3 linked regions of the Homo sapiens genome follow. The main gene of each other region encodes a partner of the protein of the gene in region 2 in a complex. Each region holds a gene or a part of one and is shown on either strand. Other genes may lie near its edges. The genes, in order: AAR2, TXNL4A and PRPF3.

Region 1 (3,651 bases), on a different chromosome or scaffold from region 2:
GGATTGCTTGAGTTCAGGAGTTTGAGACAAGCTTGGGCAACACAGGGAGACCCTATCTCAACCAAAAATAATTAGCTGGGCGTGGTGGCACACACCTGAAGTCCCACCTACTTGGGAGGCTGAGGTGGGAGGCTCAGTTGAGCCCAGGAGGTTGAGGCTGCAGTGAGTTGTGATCATGCCACTGTACTCCAGCCCATGTCACAGAGTGAGACCTTGTCTCAAAAAAAAAAAAAAAAAAAAACCAACAAAGTTATTCCTGTAACAGACCTTTTCGCAAGATATATTTTGAAGAATTGAAATGTTTAAGAGGTAGAAAGACAGGATTTCTATTCATTTTTAAGCCAGACTTTTAAAAGTTACTTATTATACGAAAATACTAATGCATTAAGATGTACCTGTTAAAGGCTGGGTGCGGTGGCTCACGCCTGTAATTCCAGCACTTTGGGAGGCTGAGGCAGGTGGATCATGAGGTCAGGAGATCGAGACCATCCTGGCCAACATGGTGAAACCCTGTCTCTACTAAAAATACAAAACAAAATTAGCCGGGCGTGGTGGCGGGCGCCTGTAGTCCCAGCTACTCAGGAGGCTGAGGCAGGAGAATGGCGTGAACCCGGGAGGCGGAGCTTGCAGTGAGCCGAACTCACACCACTGCACTCCAGCCTGGGCGACAGAGCAAGACTCCGTCTCAACAACAACAACAACAACAACAACAACAACAACAACAACAACAAAAGATGTACCTGTTAAAATATAGGTTATATCATTAGCTGAGCCAATGATATAAAAAGTCCTGTCTAGGCACAGTAATCCCAGCACTTTGGGAAGCCGAGGCAGAAGGATCACTTGGGCCCGAGAGGTTGAGGTGGCAGTAAGACATGATTGTGTGACTGACTGTACTCCACCCTGGGCGACACAGCGAAACCCTGTCTCAAAAAAAAAAAAAAAAAAAAAAGAAGTCCTACATTCAAATTTCTCACTGAACTTCCAACAAGAAAATATGCAAATTACCTGGAAAATTTATAAATATATATAAAAATAGCTGTTCAAAATGTGACACATATTTGCTGTCACTAGTATTTAAGAAATAAAGAAATATAAACAAGGTGCCATTTTTCAGCTATCCAATTGGAAGAGGCCTTTGTTAAACTGTCATGCCCAATGCTGTCAAAGGTGATGGGCAACAGGTTCCTACCAGCCAGCAAGGATGCAAAAACCTTCTCCTGGCAACATGCACAGTCTGACCCAGCAATTCTATCCCTAAATGTATGTGTAAGTACACACGAGAATGTTCACTAGATGATATATGTATATATATTTTTGAGACGGCTCTTGTTGCCCAGGCTGGAGTGCAATGGCGAGGTCTTGGTTCACTGCGACCTCTGCCTCCTGGGTTCAAGTGATTCTCCTGCCTCAGCCTCCAGAGTAGCTGGGACTACAGGTGCACACCACCCAGCTAATTTTGTATTTTTAGTACAGATGGGGTTTCACCATGTTGGCCAGGCTGGTCTCGAACTCCTAACCTCAGGTGATCCCCACCGGCCTCAGCCTCCCAAAGTGCTGGGATTACAGGTGTGAGTCACCACACCCGGCCACTTGATGATACAATAGAGAAAACAGGGAGCATCTCAATGGTCCATAACAGAGAACTGGTCCAATAACTATGGAACATGAAACAGCCACTAAAAAAGTGACTGTTAGTGACATGAAAAAACATTTATATTAAGGCAGATTACAAAGTAATAATATACTTCAATCCTGTTTTTATAAAAACTCATATATATACAGACACATATACTGAATTTTTAAGACTGAGAGGAAGTACATAGAAATAAACAGAGAAGACATTGAAATGAAATACATAGAAATACACAGAAAAAAAGGAACGTAAATATACCAAACTGTTTAAATGGTTATTTCTAAGTAGTGAGATTTGAAGTAAATTTTGTTTTTCTTTTATGATTATTATCTATCATTTTTGTAATAAAAGGGAAGGTAACAATAAAAACTGTAATGATTAAAAAAAAAATCACTGTCCTGTTCTAAGCCAGTTGAGAGACCAACATCTTGAGGGTCAGGAGCAAACTGAGCAGGCAGGTGAGAGGCTACAACGAACACAGGTCTGGCCCAGAAACCAAGAGTCCTGGGTTCTCGTCTCAGTTCAGCCACTCAGTGGGCCAAATCTTTTCCTTCTGTAGGACTGGGCTCTATCAGTGGTTCCCAAACAGAAGATTATCTGCACCAGGTTCACCTAGGATGTTTGTTTATTAGACAGATAGAAACTGCGGAAGCCCCACTCCAGATCTCTCAAATCGAAATCTCCAGGGCTAAGGGTAAAGACACACCTGTATCTTCAGCCTCCTAGCCAGGTTTAGTTGCTGCTGGACTAACACAAGATGTACTCCCTATTCCAAAACACCTCTGCTAATATCCTCCCCTTGGCCCACTCCCAAAGAGCCTTGTTCCTTCTCACCAAGCACATCCTGGGGGCTGCTGGGGAACTGCTTGTTGAGCACAGTCTCCAGGGCATAGCTCAGGTCCATGCTGTGCTTGGTTATCTCAGCTGGCGTGGCACCCTCTGGGAACATCTGCGTGGGCAGCTCTGAGAAGCGGATCTCTGTCCCGGCTCTGGGCTTCATCTCTGGTAGCCGGGCCAGGCCCTCTTGGTAGCTTTTGCACTCAATGCCACAGCGGGGTAGATTCTGCCCCACGCGGTCCTTGGTGTGCTTCATGGAGAGCACAGGTAGCACATCGGAAAAGGCACAGATCTGTCGATTCTCGGGCTGTAGCTTCTCCACTGTGGCTTCGCTGATGAAGTTGGTGAGTGAGATCCACTTCTTCAGGGTGGCATATGGGTAAGGCCCCAGGAACTGGTCCAGCTCCTGGAGGTTGGCCCTCATGGCCTCCACCTCAGACTCTGGGGCTGGGGACAGGTCTACCTCTTCCCTGAGTGTGCTCCAGCGCAGCACTGTCAGCCCCCGCTGGTGCAGGCTAAGGAAGAAACCCATACGAGGGCCTACTTCCTTCGGATTAGCCTTGTCCACAGAGCTGTAGTGGAGGAAGTGGATGCCTGGAGGGATCATCTTCACGCCCCGGAACTTGGGCCCGACCTCCCAGGAGTTATAGTCAATCCCAAACTCTGTTCCCTTGGGCATGTTCAGGATGACCACAGTGGCCCCTTCAAAGAAGAGGCGCTTGGCTAGCTCAGGATCCATCTGCACGGCAGCCATGGGGCCAGTGGTGGGTGACCAAAAGAACCCTTTTTCTTTGATGAACAGCTGAGAAAGAAAGAAACCAGAGTTAATCAGAACGTGGGGGAAAGATGCTTCATTTGCTAAGCATTCTGTATGTGCCAGATATTGAGTTAGACCCCTGACATAATTATTTCCCTTAATCCTCATGACAACCCTGCATTGAGTTTACAGATGAGAAAAACGAGGATTAAAGGAAAGGATTTTTGTGTTTTGGCTTAACATGCAAGGACACTCACTTCACAGCTATAAGATACCAGTGAAAGAAAAGTGACATGCTCATGGTCATACCAGGACCCAAATTAGAATCTGGATACCCTGCCTGCAGGCCAGTGTTCTGTCCACCGTCCATTCTTAATATCTTCTCAGATCTCTTTCTCACAACAGAGGGTGAGGGTGGAAA
Region 2 (3,651 bases):
TGAACTCCTGGGCTCAAGCAATCTGCCTGTCTCAGCCTTCCAAAGTGCTGGGATTACAGGCTTGAGACACCTGCACCCGGCCCATGTTTAACTTTTTGACGACCTGCCTGCCTGTGTTACCACTTTGCCACCAGCAGTGTGTGAGGGCTCCAATTTCTCCACATCCTTGCAAACGCTTGTTGCGATCTTTTTGTATCTAGCCGAACTTGTAGGTGTGAAGTGGCGTCTCACTGTGGTTTTGATTTGCACCTTCCTTAACAAGCAGTGATGCTGAGTGTCTCTTCGTGTGCTTCCTGGCCGTCTGTTTCACCTGCTCTGGAGAAATAGCAGGAGTGTAATACTGAGTGTCTGTTACATGCCAGGTACTCGAGGTCACATACACGTTCTCCCTAGCCCCTCATTCCGATACGCTGTTGCACTCTCCTACTTTATACATAGAAAAATCAGCACTTGGGAGATTAAACTGCAGATTTGCATTTGAATTTTAAATCCATTTAAAAAGCACACACTCATTTGTACTGTATGTAAAAAATGTGCTTCATTCTGTAAGTACCCTCCCGTTTCCACAACAGCAATCAATCTCCCGACAGCAGCGAGCCCTGTGCACCACTCCTGTGCCCGGCAGGCACCACGTGCTTCTGCGTCCACATCTGTGTGCAGGGCAGACACTATTATCCGCCTTTACCAAGGAGGAAACAAAGCTCAGAGAAGGTACCCTGCCCAAGGTCACTTGGTGGGGCAGAGCCTGGGTCTGAGGTCAGAGGGCCCACGGTGTGCTCAAGTGCCCCCATCCCTGCCCTTCCTCACTTTCACTTCAGAGCTCGAGTGTGCTGAGACGGGACACGAAGATCCCAACCAACCATCCACACTGCTAGGATGACAGAGGGCAAGAGAAACCTGAGACTGTAATAAGGACATTTTCTTTTCTTTTTTTGAGACGGAGTCTTGCTCTGTTGCCCAGGCTGGAGTGCAGTGGTGTGATCTCGGCTCACTGAAACCTCCACCTCCCGGGTTCAAGCAATTCTCCTGCCTCAGCCTTCCAAGTAGCTGGGATTACAGGCACGCGCCACCATGCCCAGCTAATTTTTGTATTTTTAGTAGAGACGGGATTTCACCATGTTGGCCAGGCTGGTCTCGAACACCTGACTTCGTGATCTGCCCACCTCGGCCTCCCAAAGTGCTGGGATTACAGGTGTGAGCCACCGTGCCTGGCCAATAAGGAAATTTTCTAACTATATGAACTGAAGGGCCATGGCTTCTACAGAAAATATGTTTACATCAAATACAATCTTGGGAAGAATAAAAAATAGCTCTCCTATTCCTTACAGGGAAGGCTATAAACAATATTTTATTGTACTGTTTTTATAACCAGAGTAAACCTTTGGATTCTGTCATGGATTGAATTGTGTAACCGCAAAATTTATATATTGAAGTCCTAACCCCCAGCACCTCAGACTGTGACTTTTGTGGACATAAGATCCTTGCAAATGTAATTAGTTAAGATTAGGCCATGCTGGAGCAGGGTGGGCCCCAATCCAACACAGCTGGTGTCACTACGAAAAGGGGAAATTTTGGACACCAGCACCCACACAGGGAGGACACAGGTGAAGGCAGAGATGGGGCGAAGTATCCACACACCAAGGAACTGAAAATACCACCAGCAGCCCCCAGAAGCCAGGGACAGGCCTGAGCAGATTCCCCTCACGGCCTCAGCAGTGACCCCCCACCCGCGACACCCTGATCTCAGACCCCCGCCTGCAAAGCTGTGAGAGCACACATCTCTGTTAAAGCCCAGCTCGCGGCATATGCTGTCACCGCAGCCCCAGCAAACCAACCCAGTATGCAAAACGCACAGGCTCACAGGATAAACACCTTCGTTTTACTCCAAGGGTAAGAATTAACTTTGACTAGGAAAATCAGTAATCTATTCATTAAGTTTCCTGAGAACAAACAAGTAGGCCTGCTCCTCTCACCACGTGCTTGTTTATTTCGGTGAGTTAAGACCATGTTATCAATTCCATCTCAGAGGTGCTCCAGCCCTGGAGCTTCCTGTATTTTCCAAAGGCTTTAAATAGCTTAAAACGTTTCCATACAAAAAGGGCTCCACGACATTTATCCGCGCAGACTGAGGGCGCCTCAGTAGCGGTACTTGGTGGAGTAGTCCTTGGGGGACACCACCAGGCCGCGGCCTTTGCGGGCCCCGCGGTACACCGTCTCGATGATGTCCACCATCTCCTGCTTGTCCTCCATGGCCCAGTTAATCTTGTTGTTGTTGCCAGTCCCCAAGTCAATCATGATGTGCTTGTTCCTGCAACGAGAAACAAGGGCATCCATTCTCATAGAAGTCTCTTTAAAAAAGAATTCCTTGAAAACAATGCCGTATTTTTCCCACTGTGACAAGCTCTTGTTAACATCACTGAAGAACGCATAAAATCGAGAGTGTATGCCATGATGCAGGAGAATACAGGAAGCAGCTAAATGTGTTTTTAAAGATGCAATGCATTGTCCACCATGCTCTTTCCTGCATTTTTCTGTATTTATTTAGGACAGTTATTCTAAGGGGAAATTAAAAGGTCAAAGGAGGGCAGGCGCAGTGGCTCATGCCTGTAATCCCAACTCTATGGGAGGCTGAGGCAGGAGGATCACTTGAGGCCCGGAGTCCGAGATCAACATGGATAACAAAATGAGACCCCCATCTAATTTGTACTAATTTACCTGATAAAAGCAATGTGTAAGTTTTTCACAGTGCTCTTATGAGCAATGACATAAATTGTATTAAAAGCCCTTCAACTATGAAATGAAGATGACATTTTGCATGTTTATGGTTAGGGAAGTAGATAATTCTTTACTTATCTTTCAAGAGACTAGTTCTTTTCCTCATGAATACTCATGTGCACTTTACAAGATAAGGATATTAACCCTTTGTTGTACTGGCATAAATTTATCCTGGTTTGTTGAAGTTTCTTTTTGAGATGGGGTCTCACTGTCATCTAGGCTAGGGCATAGTGGCAAAATCAACCTCCTGGCCCAAATGATCCTCCCACCTCAGCCCTCTAAGTAACTGGGACCACAGGCACGAGCCACCACACCCAGATAAATTTCTAGTTTTTTGTAAAGATGGGGTGTCCCCATGTTGGCCAGGCTGGTCTCAAACTCATGGCCTCAAGTGATCCTCCCACCTCGGCCTCCCAAAGTGCTGGGATTACAAACGTGAGCCACTGTGCCGGCCTGATTATTTTTCTTAGAGATGCGAGCTATGTTGCTAAGGCCGGACTCAAACCCCTAGCTCCAGTCCCACCCCGGCCTGCAGAGTGGCTGGGCTGCAGGCATACCCCACCTAAAGACTGTTTTTTAACGTTCACTTCCACAAGATCATGCATTTGGCTTCCACCTACTATTCCGTAGAAAGTATTCCCCGTGAAGTCTCTGGTTCAGGAGAGGCAAATCTGATCAGGGTCTGGAGCCCACCTCTGGCCGCCCTCTCATTCTCCATGCTGCAGGCAGGCCCTACATGCAGCATGCACCAAGCTCCTTCTACAATGACTGGGGGCTGCCCGTAGCACCCTCCCTGCAGCCCTATCTGACCTGGGTGTACTTCTTCGGTATTTATATCTCATAAACATCTGCCTCCTTTCACTTCTTCAGAACCCC
Region 3 (3,651 bases), on a different chromosome or scaffold from region 2:
AAATTACGGAAGGGTCAGGCATGGTGGCTCACGCCTGTAATCCCAGCACTTTGAGAGGCTGAGGTGGGCGAATCACTTGAGGTCAGGAGCTGAAGACCAGCCTGGCTAACATGGTGAAACACCGTCTCTAGTAAAAATACAAAAATTAGCCGGGTGTGGTGGTGGGCGCCTGTAATGCCAGCTACTCAGGAGGCTGAGGCAGGAGAAGCGCTTGAATCCAGAAGGTGGAGGTTACAGTGAGCCAAGATCATGCCACTGCACTCCAGCCTGGACAACAGGGGGAGACTCCATCTCTAAATAAGTAAAGAAAGAAAGAAAATAAAAAAATTAAAAATTACAGGGCTGGGCGTGGTGGCTCACGCCTGTAATCCCAATACTTTGGGAGGCTGAGGCAGGTGGATCACGAGGTCAGGAGATCGAGACCATCCTGGCTAACAGGGTGAAACCCCATCTCTACTAAAAATACAAAAATTAGCTGGACATGGTGATGCACGTTCTGTAATCTCAGCTACTCAGGAGGCTGAGGCAGGAGAACTGCTGGAACCCAGGAGGCGGACGTTGCAGTGAGCTGAGATCACGGCATTGCACTCCAGCCTAGGCAACAGTGCAAGAGCGAGACTCCGTCTCAAAAAATAAAATAAAATAAAATGAAAAATTACAGGCTGGGCCTGGCAGCTCACGTCTGTAATCCCAGCACTTTGGGAGGCCGAGCCGGGCGGATCACGAGGTCAGGAGTTCGAGACCAGCCTGACCAACATGGTGAAACCCCGTCTCTACTAAACATACAAAAAAATTAGCTAGGCGTGGTGGCGCGTGCCTGTAATCCCAGCTACTCAAGGGACTGAGGCAGAAGAATAGCTTGAACCCGGGAGGCGGAGGTTGCAGTGAGCCGAGATAGCGCCATTACACTCCACTCTGGGCGACAGAGTGAGACTCCGTCTCAAAAAAAAAAAAGAAAGAAACATAACAAAAGGATATGTTGTGAATACGTCCATCCCCATTCTCCATAAAAAACATCATTGGGCCTGGCACGGTGGCTCATGCCTGTAATCCCAGCACTTTGGGAGGCCGAGGCGGGTGGATCACGAGGTCAGGAGATCAAGACCATCCTGGCTAACATGGTGAAACCCCATCTCTACTAAAAATACAAAAAATTAGTCGGGCATGGTGGTACATACCTGTAGTCCCAGCTACTCAGGAGGCTGAGGCAGGAGAATGGCGTGAACCCGGGAGGCAGAGGTTGCAGTGAGCCGAGAACGCGCCACCGTACTCCAGCCTAAGTGACAGAGCAAGACTCCATCCCCCACCCCCCAAAAAAGAAAATAATTGGCTGGGCGTGGTAGCTCACGCCTGTAAGTCCAGCACTTTGGGAGGCTGAGGCAGGAGGATCATTTCAGCCCAGGAGTTCAAGACCAGCCTGGGCAACATGGTGGAACTCAATCTTTAAAAAAAATACAAAAATCAGCCAGGCATGGTGACCTGTAGTCCCAGCTACTTGGGAAGCCAAGGTGGGAGGATCACTCAAGCCCGGGAGGCAGAGGTTGCAGTAAGCCAAGATCTCGCCACTGAACTCCAGCCTGGACAAAAAAGTGAGACCTTGCCTGAAAAACAAAAACAGGCTAGGTACGGTGGCTCACGCCTATAATCCCAGCAATTTGGGAGGCCAAGGTAGGCAGATCACTTGAGGTCAGGAGTTCCAGACCAGCCTGGTCAACATGGTGAAACCCTGTCTCTACTAAAAATACAAAAATTAGCCGTGCGTGGTGGCACATGCCTATAATCCCAGCTACTTAGGAGGCTGAGGCAGGAGAATCACTTGAACCTGGGAGGCAGAGGCTGCAGTGAACCGAGATCGCACCACTGCGCTCCAGCCTGAGTGACAGAGAGAACATCTCACACACACACACAAAAAAAATCCATTTCTTTCCTTCTGTAAATATCACATATATGCAAATCCACCCACCCATATTTCTGTATATGTTCTATTACCCCCCTCAAATATTAAATGGTAAAAGAAACACTTATGTGGTATTATTTAACAATGCCAATTGAAAAAACACAAATACTTCCTGTTAAAAAAAAATAAAGTCAACTTAAAATTATTTATCAGTGGATTATATCTTCTTTGCATTATGTTTGGAGAGTCTCCTCTGTCATTAAGATGAGTTCTGATCATTTCATTTAATTTTCTCAATGACTCAACGACATAGGTAATTAGGCAAATAATGTACATAACACACTTTGCTTGCCACAGTAAATGGCAATTTCAATACCCTTACCTAGAATACTCCTGGTCAAATCAAAGAACGCTAAAACATAAAGCAGGAAATAAAATTTTCCCAAATGCTGGCCTGGCATGGTGGCTCACACCTGTAATCCCAGCCATTTGGGCGGCTGAGGTGGCAGATCACTTGAGGCCAGGAGTTCCAGAGCAGCCTGGCCAACATGACAAAATACCATCTGTACTAAAAATACAAAAATTAGCCAGGCGTAGTGGTGTTCGCATGTAGTCCCAGCTACTCCGGAGGCTTAGGCAGGAGAATCGCTTGAACCTGGGAGGTGGAGGTTGCCGTGAGCTGAGATCACGCCACTACACTCCAGCATGGGCAACAGAGTGAAACTCTATCTCAAAAAAAAAAGTTTACCCCAAATGCTAAACACTAATTCAAATCAAGATCACAATAAGGCGAGGCACGCTGGCTCACGCCTATAATCCCAGCACTCTGGGAGGCGAAGGTGGGCAGATGACCTGAGGTCAGAAGTTGAAGACCAGCCTGCCCAACATGGTGAAACCCTGTCTCTACTAAAAGAAATACAAAAAATTAGCCGGGCGCAGTGGCTCGCTCCTGTAATTCTAGCACTCTGAGAGGCCAAGGTGAGTGCATCACCTGACATCAGGAGTTCAAGACCAGCCTGGCCAACATGGTGAAACCCCATCTCTACTAAAAATACAAAAATTAGCCAGGCTTGGTGGTGGGTGCCTCTAATCCCAGCTACTCAGTAGGCTGAGACAGGAGATTTGCTTGAACCCGGGAGGCGGAGGTTGCAGTGAGCTGAGATCGCGCCACTGTATTCCAGCCTGGGTGACAAGAGCAAAACTCCACCTCAAAAAAAAAAAAAAAAAAAAAATTCCACAATAAATACAGACCCATGCACCTTTTGCTTCTTCAACTCACAAAACCACTTTGCTTCCAGTCCCTAATCACTAACCTGGAGCTTAGTCAGCATGCCAGGGCTCTCTGATGGAGGCCCAGGGATCACCTCTGGCTCTTCTTCCACCTCCTCAAAACGGGGTATTCGTCGCTTCTTTACTCCTGATGATTCTTTAGAGATCTCAGAGTCATCACCAAACACCTCCTAAGGGAACCCAAGATGAAAGAAAAGCTGTATCCCTCCCCGTGGGGAGAAGGGAAGAATTATCCTAGCCCCTACCAGCATTTTCTGGCTATTCCCAGGGGAATATGACACAACCTTGCAAATAGCCACCTGCCAGAAGCAGGGTCTACTAGACTCTCCATCTCACCCAACTTCAACATTCTCCTAATCCAGTCAAACAAATTTCATTCCCATGTTCTTATAAATGTTCCCATCTCAAGGTCTTTGCAAATGCTACTGCTCACATTTATAATGATTTCTCTCAACTTTTCCACA

The links.
Region 1: TXNL4A (region 2) and AAR2 share a complex: the UniProt entries of both Homo sapiens proteins name them as parts of the U5 snRNP complex.
Region 3: TXNL4A (region 2) and PRPF3 share a complex: the UniProt entries of both Homo sapiens proteins name them as parts of the precatalytic spliceosome.

Annotation. Positions count from the first base shown.
Region 1 is NC_000020.11:36,239,445-36,243,095, reverse strand, and holds part of AAR2 (protein AAR2 homolog), read right to left. Parts: intron 3,276-3,651; 5' UTR 3,228-3,275; coding exon 2,471-3,227; intron 1-2,470. UniProt on the Homo sapiens protein: Component of the U5 snRNP complex that is required for spliceosome assembly and for pre-mRNA splicing.
Region 2 is NC_000018.10:79,971,549-79,975,199, forward strand, and holds part of TXNL4A (thioredoxin-like protein 4A), read right to left. Parts: intron 2,309-3,651; coding exon 2,137-2,308; 3' UTR 1-2,136. UniProt on the Homo sapiens protein: Plays a role in pre-mRNA splicing as component of the U5 snRNP and U4/U6-U5 tri-snRNP complexes that are involved in spliceosome assembly, and as component of the precatalytic spliceosome (spliceosome B complex).
Region 3 is NC_000001.11:150,328,026-150,331,676, reverse strand, and holds part of PRPF3 (U4/U6 small nuclear ribonucleoprotein Prp3), read right to left. Parts: intron 3,358-3,651; coding exon 3,211-3,357; intron 1,226-3,210; exon of another isoform or gene 1,179-1,225; intron 1-1,178. UniProt on the Homo sapiens protein: Plays a role in pre-mRNA splicing as component of the U4/U6-U5 tri-snRNP complex that is involved in spliceosome assembly, and as component of the precatalytic spliceosome (spliceosome B complex).